Linked DNA regions of Homo sapiens. The protein of the gene in region 2 interacts with the protein of the main gene of each other region in a biochemical or structural test. Each region holds a gene or a part of one and is shown on either strand. Other genes may lie near its edges.

Evidence for each region.
Region 1: the proteins of LILRB2 (region 2) and ANGPTL5 form a complex in vitro, tested with the Homo sapiens proteins (one study listed by IntAct).
Region 3: the proteins of LILRB2 (region 2) and ANGPTL2 form a complex in vitro, tested with the Homo sapiens proteins (one study listed by IntAct).

Annotation. Positions count from the first base shown.
Region 1 is NC_000011.10:101,899,369-101,906,548, forward strand, and holds part of ANGPTL5 (angiopoietin-related protein 5 precursor), read right to left. Parts: intron 6,480-7,180; coding exon 6,376-6,479; intron 5,540-6,375; coding exon 5,446-5,539; intron 3,354-5,445; coding exon 3,253-3,353; intron 1,183-3,252; coding exon 1,062-1,182; intron 1-1,061.
Region 2 is NC_000019.10:54,273,276-54,278,254, forward strand, and holds the end of LILRB2 (leukocyte immunoglobulin-like receptor subfamily B member 2 isoform 2 precursor), read right to left. Parts: intron 4,665-4,979; coding exon 4,614-4,664; intron 4,326-4,613; coding exon of another isoform or gene 4,323-4,325; coding exon 4,275-4,322; coding exon of another isoform or gene 4,267-4,274; exon of another isoform or gene 4,261-4,266; intron 3,705-4,260; exon of another isoform or gene 3,655-3,704; coding exon 3,532-3,654; intron 3,182-3,531; coding exon 3,106-3,181; intron 3,027-3,105; coding exon 2,989-3,026; intron 2,729-2,988; coding exon 2,676-2,728; intron 1,555-2,675; coding exon 1,408-1,554; 3' UTR 537-1,407; downstream 1-536. UniProt on the Homo sapiens protein: Receptor for class I MHC antigens. Recognizes a broad spectrum of HLA-A, HLA-B, HLA-C, HLA-G and HLA-F alleles. Involved in the down-regulation of the immune response and the development of tolerance.
Region 3 is NC_000009.12:127,112,636-127,119,635, reverse strand, and holds part of ANGPTL2 (angiopoietin-related protein 2 precursor), read left to right. Parts: intron 1-7,000. UniProt on the Homo sapiens protein: Induces sprouting in endothelial cells through an autocrine and paracrine action.

The DNA.
Region 1 (7,180 bases), on a different chromosome or scaffold from region 2:
GGGTTACAGGCGTGAGCCACTACACCCAGCCCCAAATTTGTTTCCAAAATACACCAGTACAAAGCAGTCTCAGTTTGTATGCAGTATACCTGCCTGAAGACCTGGTTAGTCAAAACTCATATTCTTTCCCCATAGAAATAAATTTGAAGTAAGGAAGATGGCAAAGCCTGCATATGGATCTATAACTACCTAATTCAAGAAGAAGCACTCAATGGAAAAATCAGAAGTAATGCTGAGAAAATGCAAGTAAATTCACTATACTCCAGAGCATGGCAGTTACCTGGGTATAAGCCAAATTGCTTCTAAAATCACTGGCATTCAGTAGCATTTTTAGCACTAGGACTGACACCACCACTTACCAAATCCTTGGATGACATTATTATGAGAGATTAAAGATTTACAATTATAAAAACAGTAACTGTTAAAATAGCATAAAAATTAGTAAACTCACTGGCAGAAGTTCCAATTAATGTAAAATTCTGCAAAGTTCAGAAATATTGGTGTTTCTGTTTACCAGCAAATGTGATGGTGCCATGTGGCAATAATGTAAACAGATTTTACATTGACCTGAGGTTATAATTTTCAAATTTTGAGCATAATGATGTTTACTGACATTTTAATAATATGCTCAGTTTAAATAATTTGGGTTTGCACAGACACATACCTCAATTCGCCATTTCATTGGCTTGTATAGATACAACACACCTCTCAAGAATTTTAAGATCTAGGACAACGCTGCCATTCAGTTTTTCGTTCTGCAAACCGTTGGTGAGCACCTGCCAGAATTCTGCTGGGTGCATAATAGATACTTAATACATATCCAATCTAGAATTTTCACTCAAATCACATTTCACCAGATATCTACAAATAAAGATTTCCAGATCTCCACTGAAGACCTACTTATTTTAAATAATCTGGCATATGAAAAGAGGGTGATTTAAGTTATATTTTGATATTTGCAAGCATTTGCTATTTTTACTACAGATCTGACCAATAGAGGCTCTATAGATATAATATCAAAAAGAGTAAACAATGTAGAGTAGAAATACAAAAAAATTAACCTAGAAGATCTCCAAATCCATCCAGATAATCACACCACAACCTCTGGAAATCAATTATCCCATCAATTCTTTTCTGTATCACAGTCCGTCCACCTCCTCTGTAATCCATGTCACACATTACCTAAAATAAGCACAGAGAAGACCAAAATAATACACTATTATTTTCATTATTTGATAATATAACACTCATGCTTCATCCTTAGGCTTAGAAAAAGAGACGGTACTGCCACTGAGTTTTCAATGCAATCATATGCCATTAATTTATTCAGATGTTTTTTATATTTCTAGAAATAATACTGTTTATTATAAAGCAAACCTGTAATTAACCTAAATAATACTGTTTATTATCAAACAAATTTGTAATTAACTTAATCACAGTCCTTATAACAATCATTTTTAAAAATATGTATTTGCAGCTTTTTTTTCCCCCCTTTTTTTTTGAGACAGAATCTCCCTCTGTCGCCCAGGCTGGAGTGCAGTGGCGCGATCCCGGCTCACTGCAAGCTCCGCCTCCCGGGTTCACGCCATTCTCCCGCCTCAGCCTCCCGAGTAGCTGGGACTACAGGCGCCCGCTAGCACCCCCGGCTTTTTTTTTTTTTTTTTTTTTCTTTTGTATTTTTGTATGTTTTAGTAGAGACGGGGTTTCGCTGTGTTAGCCAGGATGGTCTCGATCTCCTGACCTCGTGATCCTCCCGCCTCCGCCTCCCAGAGTGCTGAGATTACAGGCGTGAGCCACCGCGCCTGGCCGTATTTGCAGCATTTTAAAGTTATCCTCTTATTACTCAACTTTATAAATATTCTTCAGTTTGTATAACAGTATTGCTCTGATGTGGCAGAGCAATGTATTTCTCTATAAACTAAATTTTGAATTAAAACACTGGGGGTGGGGGGGTGTGTGTGCACGGCTAAATATTTCACGTGCTTGTCTTTGCTCTTTTCTCCCACAAACCTGGAAGGCCTGTTTTCAGACTGGCATTTTCAGAGAAAGGCATGATCTGTGCCCACTCAGCAGGTGCTCATAGACACATCTGTTGATGCTGTGTAAAATGCCCCTAAAAGGACCTCTGTAGGGCACCCATAGAAGCGATATAGGGAAGAAATCAGAGCAAAATTCTCCCTCAGAAACTTCCCGCATAGAGACAGAGAAAAGGCAGTGTGGAGGAAGTTAAGGAACCAGCACTTTCCCACAAAAGAGGTGATTATGCATCCCACTCTTCATAAAATTAGAAGCCTTCCTTTTCCACATCTGTTCAGATCCAGTTTTGAATCTGTAGGTGAAGTAACTTAGGTAATTTTAAAATTATTTCCCACCTAATTTCCAATTTTTTGACATCTTGTCAATAGATTCCAAATAAAATAATGGTAGTAACTCTAAGAAGAGAAACCGGTAGTATTTACTTAGAAAAAAAGTGACTTTATTATCCAATAAAGACTATCAATAAGGTATAAGTATCATAAACTTTCTTCTGCACAAAGAAGTGCCCAGGAAAATATATATATAATATATATAACTGTATGTGTGTGTGCGTGTGTATATATACACACACACATATATATTCCATCAATATGCATAGTCTCTAGTAGAAATTTCTACTAGATATCCTTGCAGAGAACTACTAAGAATAGACATAAGAGTAATTTATTTTATCAATTTCAGAATGAATCAGCTTTTCAGTCTGCCTTGTACCCCACTGAAAGGTTTTTTAATTATTAATTTCTCATACAATCACATAAAATCATCTATCATCAGAAGAAATTATAACCATATACAGGAAGGGAAGTCAAAAGTATTTTTAGTAAGCTCCAAGGCAAAGCACACCATTATTTTCCAATATCCACAGGCTAATTAAAGCAAGCAAGTATTTATATTGCATAGTTCTGCCTGCTATAGTTCTGCCTGTTACGAGGATAATACAAGCTTTTGCATCACATGGATTTACTTTAAAGAGTATAACCATGGAAACTCAAATAGAAAAGTGAAAGACAGACTCTAGCTCTTTTATTAATTCATGTTTTGGGCATTAGAATTCTAAAAAACCAAAATTTTGAAAGTAGAACTTTACCTAATTTATTTAAAATTTTTTGAGGAAAAATTAAATATTAAAACAATTTAAATTTTAACATAAATTAAATTGGTTGGATGTTTATCTTAGCCCACATAATACGGGAAAACTTCAAATACGGGAAATACCTCAAATGGGTAGCTAGATCCTTCTGGGTGAATTATGTATAAACCACTCGGTGTTTTGGTGACAGAGCCAATGGTATCCTTAATATCAGTGCAATCTAAACCTAGAAAAGCAAAATTATTTAATTGGGATATTTTCAAATGTACATTTAAGGCAATCATTTTACTATAGAGAATTGATAGTGCTATTATCATAATTTTCATTATTATATTATTTTAACTTCTTCAAAATGAAAAATGGTCACAATTTTAGAAATAAAAAGAAAATATAAGGGATTAAAGAATTTATGCTGCAATAAGCCTTCACTTATAATGTCACTGTTAGTGATTAGTTTCCTATACTATTTAAAAGTTTCATTTGGGATCAACACTTATTAAACATATTTTATAATTACACATTCTCTTTACCAATAAATAATGCCATTTCAGAAATTTAGGTTTATCTTAGAGAATGTAATGTGTAAAGGAAATCTACATGAATAGGGAGGAGAAAACCAAAAGGAATAAGTAGATTAACCACTACAGACACATATTTCACTATTCTATTCCCAACTTCAGAGACTGATGTGTTTGGGACCACTAATACAAGTAGCCAAAGGAAGAAAGGGGAAAATCACTTTCTTCCCCAAGAAATTATGCCTGATGTTAGAGCCTACTCTGTTAACAACAGTTAGAATTATAGCACCCCATAATCACCTTCTCCAAAGCACTCATCTCCCCAGGATTGTAAACACGTGTATGTGGATATGGATATTACATTTTCTGGAAGATACTCTACTCTGTAGCATCTTTTATAAGTGAAATAAATTCAACCCTTAGAGCGTCCATTATCCAAATGCCCATCTTAACATCCTAGTTCTACTCCTAACACTTTACTTCATAGTGTTATCCTAACTATTTACGTAGTAAGGTATTACATAAAGCCTTTACCATAGTGCCCAGCACACCCAAATAATGAAGAAAATGCCATCTACAAAAAGTTAGCTATAAAAAGTCACTTGTTTTCCCCTTCGTCTCTGGGAGACATAGATTTGTTGTTGCCTGTATCCTTAATTGTTAAGAGATATTCTTATAATGACTTTATGCTCAGAGACATGAAAGAAGTTCACGCTGAAGGACCGATCTGGGTTGGAGTGTCTGCTATGTCATTACCTTTCAAATTAATGTGAACAGATTATTTCGATTTTTCTGGGCTGGATATTTCTTATCTGATGATGATGATCATAGCAAGCAAGCCCTTATATTGTTCTGCCTGTGATTCGGGCATTTTTTTTATTTCCTTGTGATAAACATTTGATTCGGGCAATATTTTAAGAGACTTTCCTGTATTTATTCACTTAATCCTCACATCAACTGTAAGAGGTAGGTACTATCAGTTTACTGATGAGAAAACATATCAAGAGAGCAGCAAGCAAGAAATTTGAAACCAAGGAGTCTGACATCAGAGTCCATGCTCCTGACTACCACATTATGCCTGCTTTGGGGCAGTTATGAGATATAATAAAATAATTTTAATAACAAAATAATGTGAGAAAGTGCCTGTCTTCCTACCTATCACATAGAAGATTTTTAGGCACTGTTTATTGTCTTCTTTTTCGAAGAAGGACATAAAGATCATGTTCTAGGCCCTCAATAATATTTATTTGCTTTAAACATTTGGGGATAAATTCATATTTATAAGATTTATAGGGTATTTTTCTTAGAAGTCCAAACCTCTAGGAATTAATATGCTGTATTTTAGTATAAAAAGTGCTAACTTTCAGTTTATTCTTGTCTTACATTTCTTTTTCTTTTCAAATTTTATGCCCCAATTTGAAACATTTCAAACATGTCAAAAACATTTTTTACAGGTGGGAGGAACTTTGAAACTTTCTTTTCTTCTATCTGAAGATGAATTATTAATAAGATATAAACTGGGAGTCCAGAACAAAGCTATAGAAAGCTATGTTATTTTCAACAGCTTCAGGATATCTTTATACAGCCATGGCTTTCACATGGTTGAAAAAGTTTCCCATTTTAAGAAAGTACACGTTGTCTATGGTGAAATTTGCTTAATAGCAGGTATTAGCCCTCCAGTCTGTTAGAGAACGGTGAGCTGTAGTTTTTAAATAAAACTTTTAAATGGATCGACCTGTCCAGGAAAATTTTAAGCAATAAAAGACAAACATGAAAAGGCTGAAATACCAAAGTTCTCACCATGTGACTGAACAGGTCTGTGAGGAAAAGGATCCAGCTGTTTTCTAAAAACTTCTGTAGTCAAAAGGAGAACTCTATTCATGAGCTCGTTAACCTAAACACATGCATACACATTTAAGTAAATTTATATTTGAAGAAATTGCCATCTCTAAGCCTCTCATAAACCCAGCTCTGAAATACGTAATGGTGCCCATTTTTCTAGATTGATTTCTTACTGCTTTAACAAAGAATAAAGGCAAAGCTAAATAGCAATCATTAAATTTCGTAGTATCTACCTCCTTAACGTTGATTTTATCTGCCCCGATTTCTGCATTTGGCTGCTCTTGCACATCTGCCCTTCATACCTTGTCCAAACCATTGCTGTAGTTTCTTACCTCCTCCTTTGGCTCTTCCTCAAGTCATTGGCCACACAAGTTAATCAGATTGTGGCATTTCCTTGCTTAAACACTACAGTGGCTCCTTGGTGTGGTATGACTTCGTTCTTGCCTATTCCTATAGTCAGTTTTCCTTAAATACTCAACCTCACCAGCCACTCCACCCTGTACCAACACCAAGAAGTTTCCCCAGAATGGAATGTCCTCTTCGCCTTACCCAACCTTTATGATTTTTAAAACATTTATTCATCCTTCATGACTGTTAACAGACTTTCTCCTCTGGGAAGCTTTTTGTATCTGAGAGTTCTCTTTTGTGCCATTCTAGCAACCACATTTTTGTCAACACATTTTAATGCTCCACTAGACCATACCCCTTGAATTAAGTTCGATTTTTTTACTGCTTTTTGTTTGCCTAAAGTTTACTATGGTGCCTCTAACATGGTAGGCGCTAAATAGATGTCTGAACATGAATGCATTTTAAAAAAAGATTATACCTCCAGCTAACTATACATCAACGTGTACATGCAATAACAACACAATACTAAAACATCTATACCTGATTAGATAAATAATCCAAGGAAGCTTGTTGCTCATCCATCATATTCCTTAGTAGTTTTTTGGTACTTCTTGTGTAGGAAACAATAGAATTTTGCAAATTTCCTTAACCATAATAAAAAGTGGCTGTTAAATATTATATTGTTACAGAAAACAATTACAGTGAAAAATAGTGAATTTTACCTGATTTTGGATATGTATGTTAACTCAATACTATCTCAATTTATCTTAATACTCAGAATTACATATTTTAGTTAGTATATCTTTTGTTTAACTCAGGATTAACCCCAGAAATGATTGTCTCAATACTTCTTAATGAAACTATGCTTCCTACTAATATAGATTACCCAGAATAATTAATCTGTTATCATTAAGAGACAGTGTTCTGATTATAAATTCTCACTTTATAAGATGAGATATATAGAGGCAGGAGTTATAGGATTCATCAATTCTTACTGTAAAAGAAAGTTAGTGGTGACAGTTTTATACCAGGCAAGTTAATTTTAAAAAGTACATCTTTGTTTTAATTTTTCTATTAATACTATATTTACACAATTAAATTGCTAGCACATACATATACATACACATAATAAATGTTAGTCAAAGGTTTTGGTTATTTGGTTTCTGACTAAACATTTACTATACATTTTCCTTTTAAAAATGTTTTTATCTTAAGAGAAAATTTCTTATAGCGAAGTTGCGATAACAGTACAAATAACTTTTTCCTAATGCCTTTGAGACCATGTTGCCATGATGTACCGTCATGCTATTTCAGTGTATATTTCTTACACCAAAGACATTTCTAA
Region 2 (4,979 bases):
TTCCCAAAGCAATATTTAGGTTCAATGCAATTCCCATCAAAATATCAACATCATTTTTTTCACAGAATTAGAAAAAAATCCTAAAATTCATATGGAACCAAAAAGAGGATGAATACCAAAGCAATCTTAAGCAAAAAGACAAATGTAAATTTAATAAACATATCCTAGGCTGAATTGTAGGGGGTTTGTTTTTGCTCACTTCAACCTCCACCTCCCGGGTTCATTCAAGTGATCCTCCTGCCTCTGCCTCCCAAGTAGCTGGGATTGCAGCGTGCGCCACCATGTCCAGCTAATTTTTGTATTTTTAGTAGAGATGGGGTTTTGCCTTGTTGGCCATGCTGGTCTTGAACTCCCGGCCTCAAGTAATCTGTGGCCTCTGCCTCCCTAGGTGTTGAGATTACAGGCGTGAGCCACCGCACCCGGGCACATTGCCTCTTTTTCTATTCTCAAGAAACATTTGTGATGCTCTGGGTGTGTTTGTGTGTTTCATTAGTGCGTCAATATTTGTAAGAAATCACCAGTGAAACTTCCTGAACTGGAGTTGATACGATGGGAACATTTTTATTACAGTCAATGTTTTTCACACACACACACACACACACACACACACATATATATACACACACATACACACACATTTAAAATGAGTCAGATTCTCTGATTACTCTTACGTTCATTATGTAAACTCCAGTTTTGAATATTTCATCCATTTAATCTGCATTTTCTAGTATATTGGTATAGGTTTGCAGCCTGTTCTGGGGTTAGTTTGTGAAAATGTGTGTAGGATCTGCTGGGCTGTCTGCTGGCTCACTCCCATATGGAAATGCGTGCCTGCTCTTTCTTTCTCTTGCTCAATGTAGTTAGGATTTATGACTGTAATTAATATTTTCAAGAATGAGCTTCATTGGCTTTGTTGAATTTTCAAGTTTTGGTTTTTCCTCATGAGCAACTCTTCTTCTTCTTATTCCCTTTCTTACACCTTCATTTGGAATAATTGGTTATTCTTTTTCTAAATTCCTTATACGAAAGCCAACGTCATTCATTTCCTAGTTTTTTTTTTTCGTTTCTACTTTTTTCATTTGTGGTTTGTACTTTTTCAATTTCATTGTGTGATGTGTAATATTTATATTGTGATTCAGTTTAAAGCACATTCTTACTTCTGATTTTAGTTTTCTCGGTTAACTCATTGATTATTGAGAAGTCTGTTGCTTTAATTAAAAAATGTAGGGATATTAGTTATTTCGACTGCAGAATCAAGTGAGTCCCAAAGTTCCCAGCATCTCCTCATGGTCTTTGTTAGGGGTCCAGGCTGACTGGGGTTCATTGGTGTCCACTGGGGGCAGCTCCCGTGCCTTCAGCAGTCCTGAGTCTCCTTCTACTGAGTGTGGAGTCTGCGTACCCTCCGGGCTAGTGGATGGCCAGGGTGGCGTAGATGCTGGGCTCAGCTGGAGGTTCCCTTTCCTGGGATGGAGGAGGCTCAGTTGCCTTCCGTCTGAGGGTCAAGCTGTGCAGCTGGGCGTAGGTCACATCCTGGGGGGCTTCAGATGCAGCAGCCTGCAGCGGGGGAGAGTGAGAGGTAAGGAACGTGGTGGGGGTGGGGGAGGCCTGGGGGCCTGGAGAGGAAAGGACTCTCTCAGTGTCCATCTGTCTGTCCTCTTCTGCCTGTCTGTCCTTTGTGTCCAGGAATTCCCCGGACAGTGGGGAGGGAGGAGAGGCCATTTCTCTCCTAGGTCTGGAGTGTTTCACCGGGGCATATGTCACTGCCTGGGGGTCTTCATCATGTGGGCTCTGCTGGAGAGAGACAGTGGTGGGGGGTGTCCTTGAGTCCCCCTGACCTCCTGGAGTCAATTTTCCTCACTGTTCCCGGGGTGATCCGATTACATCCCTTTCCCGATGGAATCTCAGGGACGCCCTAAGGCCGTGGAGGGTCTGGCCGCTCCCTTCCTGTGGTTCTGGCCTCTGCTCCTCACTTTGACCTTGCCCATTTGGCTGCAGCCTCATGGGCCTTCCCGCAAGAGCTCGCTGCTGCCTCGGGGCCTTTGCACGGCTGTTTCCTCTGCCTGCAGGGGCTCGTCCATTAGAGGATCGTGTGCCCCACTCTGTCCAGGCTTCTCAGATGACAGCTGAGCAGACAGCCCTCCCCTTCCATTCAGACTGGCCCCACTGCCCCACACTCTCTGCCCTTTCCCTGGTGTATGTTCCTTTAAGCACGTTGCACTCCTGGACATGGCGCATTTATTTGCATTTTGTCTCCCACCATGAGGTGAGCTCAGGAGGCGGGGGCGGCTTTGCTCCCTGCTGTGTCTGCAGCTCCCATGGGGAGCCTGATCCACAGTGAGCTCCCTGGGAACACTCACTGGTTGAATGAATGAAGGGGAGCCCAGGGGACCGGGGTGGTTCATTTATTCCTCATCCTCCAGAGGCCTGGGGAGCGCTCTAACAACCAGACGGCCAAACAGAGGATGAGGAGCAGGAAGGGGACCCGGGAGGAGGCCCACGAGGTCCCAGGACAGCAGGAGAGAGTGAGGTCACAGCAGGCGGGAGGCAGCGTGCTGGACAAGGAGGGGTCCACCGTGACGATGCTGAGAGCCGGGGGAAGGAGGACAGAGAAGTCCTGCTGGATTAGATCTGGCACCAGGAGGCCTTTGGTGCCTGGGACAGGGGCGGGGTCTCACCCGAGTGTCCATCTCCACCCCATCTTCAGGCTGTGTGTCCTTCACGGCAGCATCTGCTGGGGCAGAGCAAGGGGTTCGTCTCTTGGGAAGGTTCCCTGGGACCTCTGAGTCCTGCCAGCCCCTGCCCTGCTCCCAGATGGGGCTACTGAGATGCAGGGAGGGGCTGCAATGTCCCTGAGGTCCCACAGTGTGGGGTGAGATGATCTCACCCTGAGCCCCAGACCCTTTCCAGCCGGTGCCCCTTTCCCCATTGCTACGGAAACTTCGGGGCCCCTATCTCCCTCCTGGCTGGTCACCTCTTCCTCTCACTCACAGAGGTTTTCTTCCTGGGCGTCGGCAGCTGGGCTGGACCTGGGGGAGGAATGGGAGCTTTAGGGGCAGTGTATGGGCCACGAGCAGGTGGGAGTCTGGGGTCTTCGGGCAGAATTACCTCCACTGCAGGCCTCTGTCTGTGGGCTCTGGCCCCACAGCCCCTGCAGGATGTTGGAAATCAGCCTTTCTCTGGGCTGGGGGAAGAAGGACAGAGCCTCAGCCCTGGGAACATTGGAGCCCCCTGCCCTGCACACACAGCTCGAAGGTAAGGAAGGAAACCTAAAAACACTCCTGCCTCCATGTTCCAAATGCCTCATGAGATGGACAGAGTCCGAAGGACACTTTACATTTGTAGATGGGACTGAGCCCGGAGGACACTTTATATTTGTAGATGGGACTGACGTTAAGTGCTTTCTCCATTCACCTGGTGAGAAATGCTGGAACAGTTTCTCAAAGCTGCATTTGCCCAGTGGTTTGGATTCTCTTTGGCTGTGCCCTGAGCCCACCCTCGGTCGGCCCACAGGGTTTCCCCTTCCCTACTCACTCGATGTCCAGTGTTTGCCCTGACGTCGATGTCGGAGGATGAGGAAGAGGAGGAGGAGGAGGAGGAGCAGTAGGACGACGGCCACCAAGATGCCGATCACAACCCCCAGGTGCCTTCCCAGACCTTGAGCACGATGATGTCAGGGATGGGGGTGATGTCATTGAAATGAGCGCCTACTGTGTGCAGGTGACTGCTGGACCTTCTGTTCACCACCTCCAACCCCCACAACAGTCGTGCAGCACACAAACATCCACCCCACCCACTCTACAGATGAAAAACTGACGCTCAGAGAGGGGAATCGCCTGCCCCGGGCCCCCAGCCAGGAAGCGGCAGAGCTGGGAAGGGAGCCTGGGAGTCTGACCTGCAGCCCTTGTTCCTGCACCAGAGCCGAGCCCCGGAGCTGCAGGGAAAGAGCCTTACCGTCCTGAACCACGACTCTGCTCCCCTCCCCTGCCCCAGGTCACCGTCTCTGCTGCAGGTGGGACGGGACAGGCCCCCGCGGAATCGAGTCTTGGAGTCTTCCCTGAGGGGCCTCCTCTCCCAGGAGGTCACAGCTGGGAGTGAGAGCTGAAAGGAACTTTCCCACCTGCAGGCCTCTCTCCTTTACACTTGGAGAAACTGAGGCCCAGGCAGGGGAGGAGCCTGTCTACATCACCACCTCCAGAGGAGCCTGAACCTAGGACAGAACCCACCCCTGCCTCCCCGGGACCCCGCCCACCTCCCACTCAGAGCCCCTCACTCACCACTTTGGGGATCCGACCCAGTGGGGGTGAGGGGCTGGTCCTCAGGGCCTGCTGGGTCAGGACGGGGAGGTGAGGGCTGGGGCTGCCCTGCTCCCCACATCAGCCCGGCTGCTCCTCCCCCAGGCTGGGCCCCAACATTTCTCTCTGCCTTGACCCCCCACCCCTCACCAGCCCAGCCTCAGAGCCCTGGGGACCCTGTGGCCCCTCCTCTGGCTCTGCCCAGCTCCCTGGACAGAAGCCCTTGATTGAGTCCCTGAAGGGAATGGGATCCTCCTGGACACTCAAAGCTGCCCTGGGGGTCGCTGCGCTCCCTTCGAGCCAGAGGCCTCAGGGACTCACCAGGTGTGGAGATGGGACCGGTGGGTGGGGGGCTGGAACCCATGGAGGGTCCTGGGTGAAAGAATGAGAGGAGGGTGAGGAGCTGGGGCTTTCCTGAAGTCTCCACCTCAAACCAAATTTCTCTACATGGGCCCTGTGGCCTCCCCAGGCCCCTCCCTCCACCCGCCTCTCCTGTCCATGATGCTGGCGATGCCGCTGAGTGTGCGCAGGCCTGGGAGGGCCTGTTGTCCTCCTTCCCTCTGAGGGTGAGTCTCCCACTGGCTGAGCCCCGCTCAGACCCCCGCTCACTCCATCCCAGCCCAGAGCTCTCCTGGGGGGCAGGGCCTGAGCTGAGCCTTTGAGCTCAGAGAGGACAGGGTCAAGGCC
Region 3 (7,000 bases), on a different chromosome or scaffold from region 2:
AATAAGGCATATACATTATGTCATTTCATCCTCACCACAACCCTAGAAGGTAGGTTCTAGTTTTAGCATCCCATTTTACAGATGGGAAAACTAAGTCTCGAGAGGTTAACTTGCCCAAAGTCACACAGTTATGTGATTATGTGGGACTGGAACCCAGCTCTGTCTGGCTCCAAAGCCCCTGACTTCCTCTCACTTCAGTGCCTTGTTTAGACACCTCAACTTCTCTTATCCTGACTGTCACTGGGTCCCTGCCCAGTGTCGTCAGTAGCCACATCTGCTTTGGTTGCTGTCCTATCGAATGCTGCACCAACCCCTCTGAAAACCATGGACTTACTCAACTTTAGCGCATCCCTTGCTCTTCATGGAAGCCTACTTCTGAGGCAAAATAGGCATGACTGTTACTCTTAGAGATGAGCCTCAGCACAGTTATGAGGGTACCTGTTATGTGGTAATATGGTCAGTGACAAGAGGAACTGAGCTTCGAAACCAGGTTGGCTGACTTGTTCCACGTGCCTGGGTGCTCTGCGATACTGTCTCACCACATCAGCACCAGGAAACTCTGTCCCCAGCTCAGTGGGGGCAGAGCCTCAGGGAAACACTGGTCCATGTGACTAAGATACTATTGATGCGCTTTCTACATCCGTACTTGGAGGCTCCTTTAGGACTGAAGAATCAGAGCTCAGGTCCTCATCACCCACACTGGGCCACACACGAGCAATTTCTGAGAAAACATCAGGGAGATGGCAATGGGTAGCTACAATAGAACAAACATAACAGACAGCAGCCCTGCCAAAGCAGGTACATTCAGCAACTGGCCTCTCTGAATCACAGCCCATTTAATCTGGAATGGTCTCAACTGACAGCAGGCAGATGGGGGAGGGGCTCTGCTTCATAGAGCCCACAGCCCAGCAGGACTGGGCAGACAGTAAATAATCACACAAACACACAACTGTGTGAAAGCTGTAAAGAGGTGGCACAAGGAGCTAAGAGGGTCCTCAAGGTGGGTGGTGCTGTCCCCGTCTTACAGAAGTGGAAACTGGGGGTCAGGGTGCAGCACCTCTCCCACGGTCTCTCCATGCATGGGCCAAAAAGCAAAGATTGAAACCCAGACCTGTGCTGGTTCCACCCCAGCCTGCTGCCATCCTGGACAACCACACTGTGGAAATCTCAAGAAAGAATCAATTCATTGAATAGCATTTCTTTTTTGTGAATTTATATAAAACACCCCAAATAGAAGAGTTATTCAGCCACAGGCAGCTTGGAGTTTGTGGTGATACACTGGTCACGTCAGAAGCCTCATTCTGGGGGTAGTTTCTATGACAAAACTGTGTTCTTTCACATGGACTGTGAGCCATATGACTGAGTTCATAACAGTGTTGGGGGTTACAACGTTACGATGGCCTGTCACATGTACACATCAATCACAAGCCACATTTTGGTCCCAGGAATGTTAAAATGTTGGGTGTGGCAGGAGAATCCCTTGAACCCGGGAGGCGGAGGTTGCAGTGAGCTGAGATCGCGCCACTGCACTCCAGTCTGGTGATAGAGCAAGACTCCATCTCAAAAATAAAAAATAAAATGTTGGGTGTGGGGAGCCAGGCCTCTCACAACTGAACTATTGTGTCAGTCCATTCTCTGCTGAAATCAGCCTGTCTGGGGCCAGCAGCCCCAGAGCCTCAGCAACCCCCTGCTGCCTAGTTGTCCAGACAGGCAGTACCAAGACCACCAAGGAAAAGCCCAGAATGGACTCTGTTCTTATCTTCAAGAGATGCCTGAGGACCTGCCCAGCTCCAAGAATCCTTAAAGTCCTGCCTGAGGTGGTCCCACTCCAACCTCCATGAGGGAAAGGCTGTGTCTGTCTCAGTTACTGCCGAATCTCTAATACCCACTCAGGGCCAGGTAGAAAAGATATCTGTGGAATGAATGAATCAATGAAGCAAGCCTCAGGCCCAGGCTCTCAAGCAAACAAGCTTCTCTACCCCAGGGTGCCACACCATTCCTCTCTCTGTTGTCCAGCCAAGGGCTTTTCTGAGGCTAGGTCAGGTGCCCCACAGCCCCCCAAGTTTCCCTATCTGGGCATGGATCTCTTTGCATTACAAATGCCTAGTCTCTGTCTCACCTACTACCGTGGACCCCTTGAGGGTAAGGACCTCACCCACCTTGTTCCTGTTCTACCTCCAGCCGCTGGCACAGTGGCTGGAAGAGGAGAACTTATTGGGAAATACATTATACAAATGAAGTTCTTGAATTCCTATTTAGTAACCTAGGTGCCATCCTGGATACTCAGTAGTCAGAGGAGGAATCTGCCCTGGCCCTGCTTTTTAAAGAAGCTGTAGTCAGGAGGGAGATAACCAGATGACTGCAATCTGAGTCTTGGGTGTTGAGTTGGAAGCAGCCACAGCTGCACTTGTGAGCTGAAGGAGGGAGGGAAGACCTCACTGAATGGATGGCTTCATGGTGAGGTCAACTTAGGAAGACAGGCAGGCATCAGCCAGGACAGTGGGGGAAGGTACTCGAGGCAGGAAGCACAGCACATGCAAAGGCAGGGAGGCATGACAACACAAGGTCTGTTTTTAAGCAGGACGCTGACATGATCAGATGTGGGTGTCAGACAGACAGCCCTGGAGCTGCATGCAGTGTAGACTGCAGGGGAGAGAGCACCCAAAGGCAGGGAGGCCAATTAGGATTGTGTGGGTAAGAAACCTGGCCCTGGGTTAGACAAATCTGTTACTGGGCCCAGCTCCACCACTTGGTAGCACTGTGCCCCTGGACAAGTGGCTTCATCCCTTACCTTTGTTTGCTCATCTGTGAAATGAGGATAGTCATAGCCCCTGCCTCAAAGAGCTACCGGGATCAGTGAGGCAGACACAAACATTGGTTGTCCCAGTGTTTGAGGAACAAGTCCATCCAAACAGCCAAGGTGGCCCTGGTGCCAACTTCTCAGCCTGGTCCAGAAAAGCAGCCCCAGGCAAGGCCTGGACTTCCCAAGAAAGTCACCCTGGGGCAGTGCTGTCCACCCAGCCCTTGACTTCTCCCTCTTGTCTAGGGCTTTCCCAGTTGTAGGGCTCCAGAGCACACTAGGCACTGCCGGAAATGCAGCAGCCAACTCAGAAGCTGGACTCTGAAATGGCTTCTGCAGACTCTTCCCCGCCTCTGCTCTGTTGGCCAAGGCTCCTGGCACAGAGGCCTCAGTGCACAGACTTTGGGGGAATCTCAAAATGGTTCCCAAATAACGCACTGTGAAAAAGTAACAGCAGTGTCCTTGTCCCCCGGAAAAGGCAACCAGCTCCCCCACTCCCTAACCACATCCCCCTCTACCCTATGATCTCATGGTGTGACCACAACCCGCCTCCTCCATGAACTCTTCCTGGAGCCAGCAATTCACCAATGGCAGGAGCACAAGAGCCCAAAGCATCAGGCAGATTCGAACCCCCAGTGCTACTCCTCCAGGCAAATCTGTCTTACCCTGCTTCTCTGACTCATGGCTCCCATCACCCATGACAGGTAGTAGCAATGCACAATGGCTAGCTGCATGGGAAGGCTAAATGGGTGGGTGATGGAGGGCTGGATGGATGGATAAATGGTTCATTCAATGGTCTTATGAGAGCTGAACTAGAAGGGTTTGGGAATTGACTCCAGACTCCCCAGGTGCCTTCTGGTGGGGAATCATTCATAGCATCCTCAGCCAGGAGGGGAGGGCAGCTGGAGATCTGGATATGCCCTCCCTGGCCTCCGGGCTGATGGTGAATCATCCAGGACAAACAATGCACAGTCCTTTCACCAGGTTCTCCAAGGTGAGGGTGTCACTGCTCATCCCAGATGCCCATTTTGGGGTCTTACCACTTGCGTGATCAAGCAGCTCTTTCCAACATCCAACAAAACACACCCTTGTGCTGACCTGAAAGCTATTTCTACTTATTCAGTCAACAGTGAGTAACATGCAAGCTGCATCTCAGCCATTAAACAAACAAGCACCTTTTATTCATACTGGTTGAAGAGACAATCTTGATGCAAGGCAGGGTTTGGACCTAGCAGTTGACAGCTAAATCCCAGTTGTGATATTTACTTCCAAGTGATCTTGAACAAGCGACCTAACCTTTCTAGACTTGGGTTTCCTCTACTGCCAAATGCAGATATAATACCTTTCTCTTAGGTAATGGGATCATATAGTTTGTTGCTCAGTCAGGACAATATTGAGAGTGAAAAGGGGGTGCTATTAATAACTACATAAGACCGCAACCAGCATGGCGAAACCCTGTCTCTACTAAAAATACAAAAATTAGCCAGGTGTGGTGACAGGCACCTGTAATCCTAGCTGCTCAGGAGGTTGAGGCAGGAGAACTGCTTGAAAGCGGGAGGCAGAGGTTGCAGTGAGCTGAGATGGTGCCATTGCACTCCAGCCTGGGTGACAAGAGCGAAACTCCATCTCAAAATAATAATAATAATAATAATAATTACGTAAGACAACAGACCTCAACTGGGGCCAACCAGGATGTATGGTCCCCTACTCATAGAGCTATTAAGAGCCAATGAGATAGAGTACAGCTGGGCACCCAAATTCACAACAAACGACAGCCATTATTAGCAATACTACTGGTCACCTGATCAGCTGGGCCTTTTCCTTCATCTGGATCCCTCCCACATCTTGGATTACCAACTGGTTTGGATACTTCCCTACCAGCACACCATACATTTCAACAGCTTAGTAGGAACACCTGCTAGCTAATGTTGATGTTTTCATCTGTCTTCTGTCCTGATGATAGTTTCACAAACTTGATTCATGCTCAGGTCCACCAGACTCACTCAAGCACAGCTCAGGCTTCTAGCTTCCCAGAACCCCGACGTCAGGGGCCAGCTGGCAGTTCCAGATTCCCTGACTGCCTTGGCAGAGGCCCGCTTCTCAGGCCTCCTGCAGTGCTGGGATGCCTCTTATGGCGTGGACCCATTATTGGCCTTCATCTGTGATCACAGACCAATGGGCAGTGCTGACCAGAGGACGGGTGGTGAGGGGGTGGTTCTGTAAGTCCTCCAGGCAGGACTACAACCTGGACTGATGATGAATCAACTCCTGAGATCCGGATTTAATTTGGAGGCTTCCCTGGGATCTGCAGGCCTAATGACGGCAAGAGCACTCCTGTCGTCGTCCTGCCTAGAGGGTCAGAGAACAACCTCTTTTGGGTTTCCAGTCACTTTGGCACTTTGGTTTCTCTTTATTCACAGTATGGTATCTTTGGGGGTTATTTTGGGATCTGTTAGTGGCTCTACTACTTATTAATTTGTGATTTGGGCAAATGACTCACGATCCTCAAATCTCAATAGTTTCCTCAACTGCAAATAGGGATAAATGTCAGCTTTGCTGTTAGCCTTAAAAGTATCTTTGTGGGCATCAGAAAATTGCTACAATATAAATATAAAAAACATAAAGACTATGAATGTGAGTTGTGTCCCCTAGAGTAGCACAGTGCTCAAGTGGGGCCACCATGCATGGCGGCCCTCAAATAACAGGCCGCCTTCCGAGGGCTGTTGGGAAGATTAAGTGAGATAATGTATATAAAGTGCTTGAGCCATAGTGACAATTTATTGTTGTTATTCTTTTAATTGCTGGAACTTTTCTCATTTCTAACCTTTGGGGTGAACTCAAAAGAGGATCCCAGGCCGGCAGCTTCTGCTGCAGGGCAGAACACACAGCTCCATCTGATGAAAATGACAGCTCTTCCCACAAAGTGGCCCCTTGCTTGGGCTGTGGCACCACAGTGGTGAGAGGGATGCGGACACATGATGTGTGGCCCCACCACATCAGGCCAAGCGGGGACATTCAGAGGCAGCCCACCGGAGACTGGGTGGGACCCAAGCCCTGGAGAGGCTGCCTCCCAGTGTACAAAGGCTGTCACGTGGCACAGTCACACCAGCCTCACTTGTGGGGAGGGAAAACCCATGCGTGATGGAAACTCCTCACAATACAATGTGGAAAAGCAATTTTAAGAATCGTTTTTATTTTAATTCTGAAGCCAAGGAAAACAGTTGGATTTGCTTTTCTTTGTTGGACACAGGAAAAAAGTGAGGAGCATCACTTTGATTGGAGTTGAGTTCTTCTTCAGTCCTAAGATGGCTGGAATGCCGGGGTGGGGGTGGGGGGTGTTACTTCTCTTGAGATACAATGAGTTGAATAAATATCAAGAGAGCAAAAGTAAACAAACTTATTACTGCCCATTAAGAGCCGCCAAACTGGCAAAAAACTGCTGGGGGGAGGGGAGGAATTGGGGTTGGAGTCTTGGACTCCAAGGAAAATAAATGACTCTGAGGCTCAAAGAGAAGCCCAAGGAGCATGGCCCTTGGTATCAGGTTGACCCAAGTCCTAGGCTCAGTCACCTTTGGCTGTTATCTGCCGTGTGTTCCTGGGCAAATCACTGAGCCTGTTTGGGTTGCAATGTCTCCGTTGATAAAACAGGGGTGAATAACAACCCACCGGATTACCTGGGACAATGTATGTCAGGCGCCCAGCACAGTGCCCTGTTCCTTCCCTTCCTTCCTGTAACCCAATCAGTTCTGAGTCACCCCCACTAAGCCTAGGCCCCACAGAGGTGTAACAGTAGGACTCAGAATCAATGTAGTTACAAGAGGTCCCACTGCTCGCAACATGACCTCAAAGTCAGCTACCCCTACACCTTTTTGAGCTTCAGTTTCCTCAGCCTAGAAATGGGCATAACACTAGTAAGTCACTCTGAGTGTTGGAATGATTAGATGAGAGAATGTTGATGTGAAGGGTCTGGAAGCCCTAAAGCCCTGTGCAAGCATTAGTCAAGGAGATGGTGTGAGTGCTTGGCACACTGCCTGGCCCACACCCAGCATCCTCACTGTTGTTGGTTTTGTTTCAGCTTTGTTGTTCTTGCTATCGTATTGCTAACACATTATTCCAATCTCCCGCTTCTGATGCACTTCCATGCTGCTCACCTAGTGTGCAAGGTGGGTTGGATCATCCCATTTCACAGAAAAGACTCAG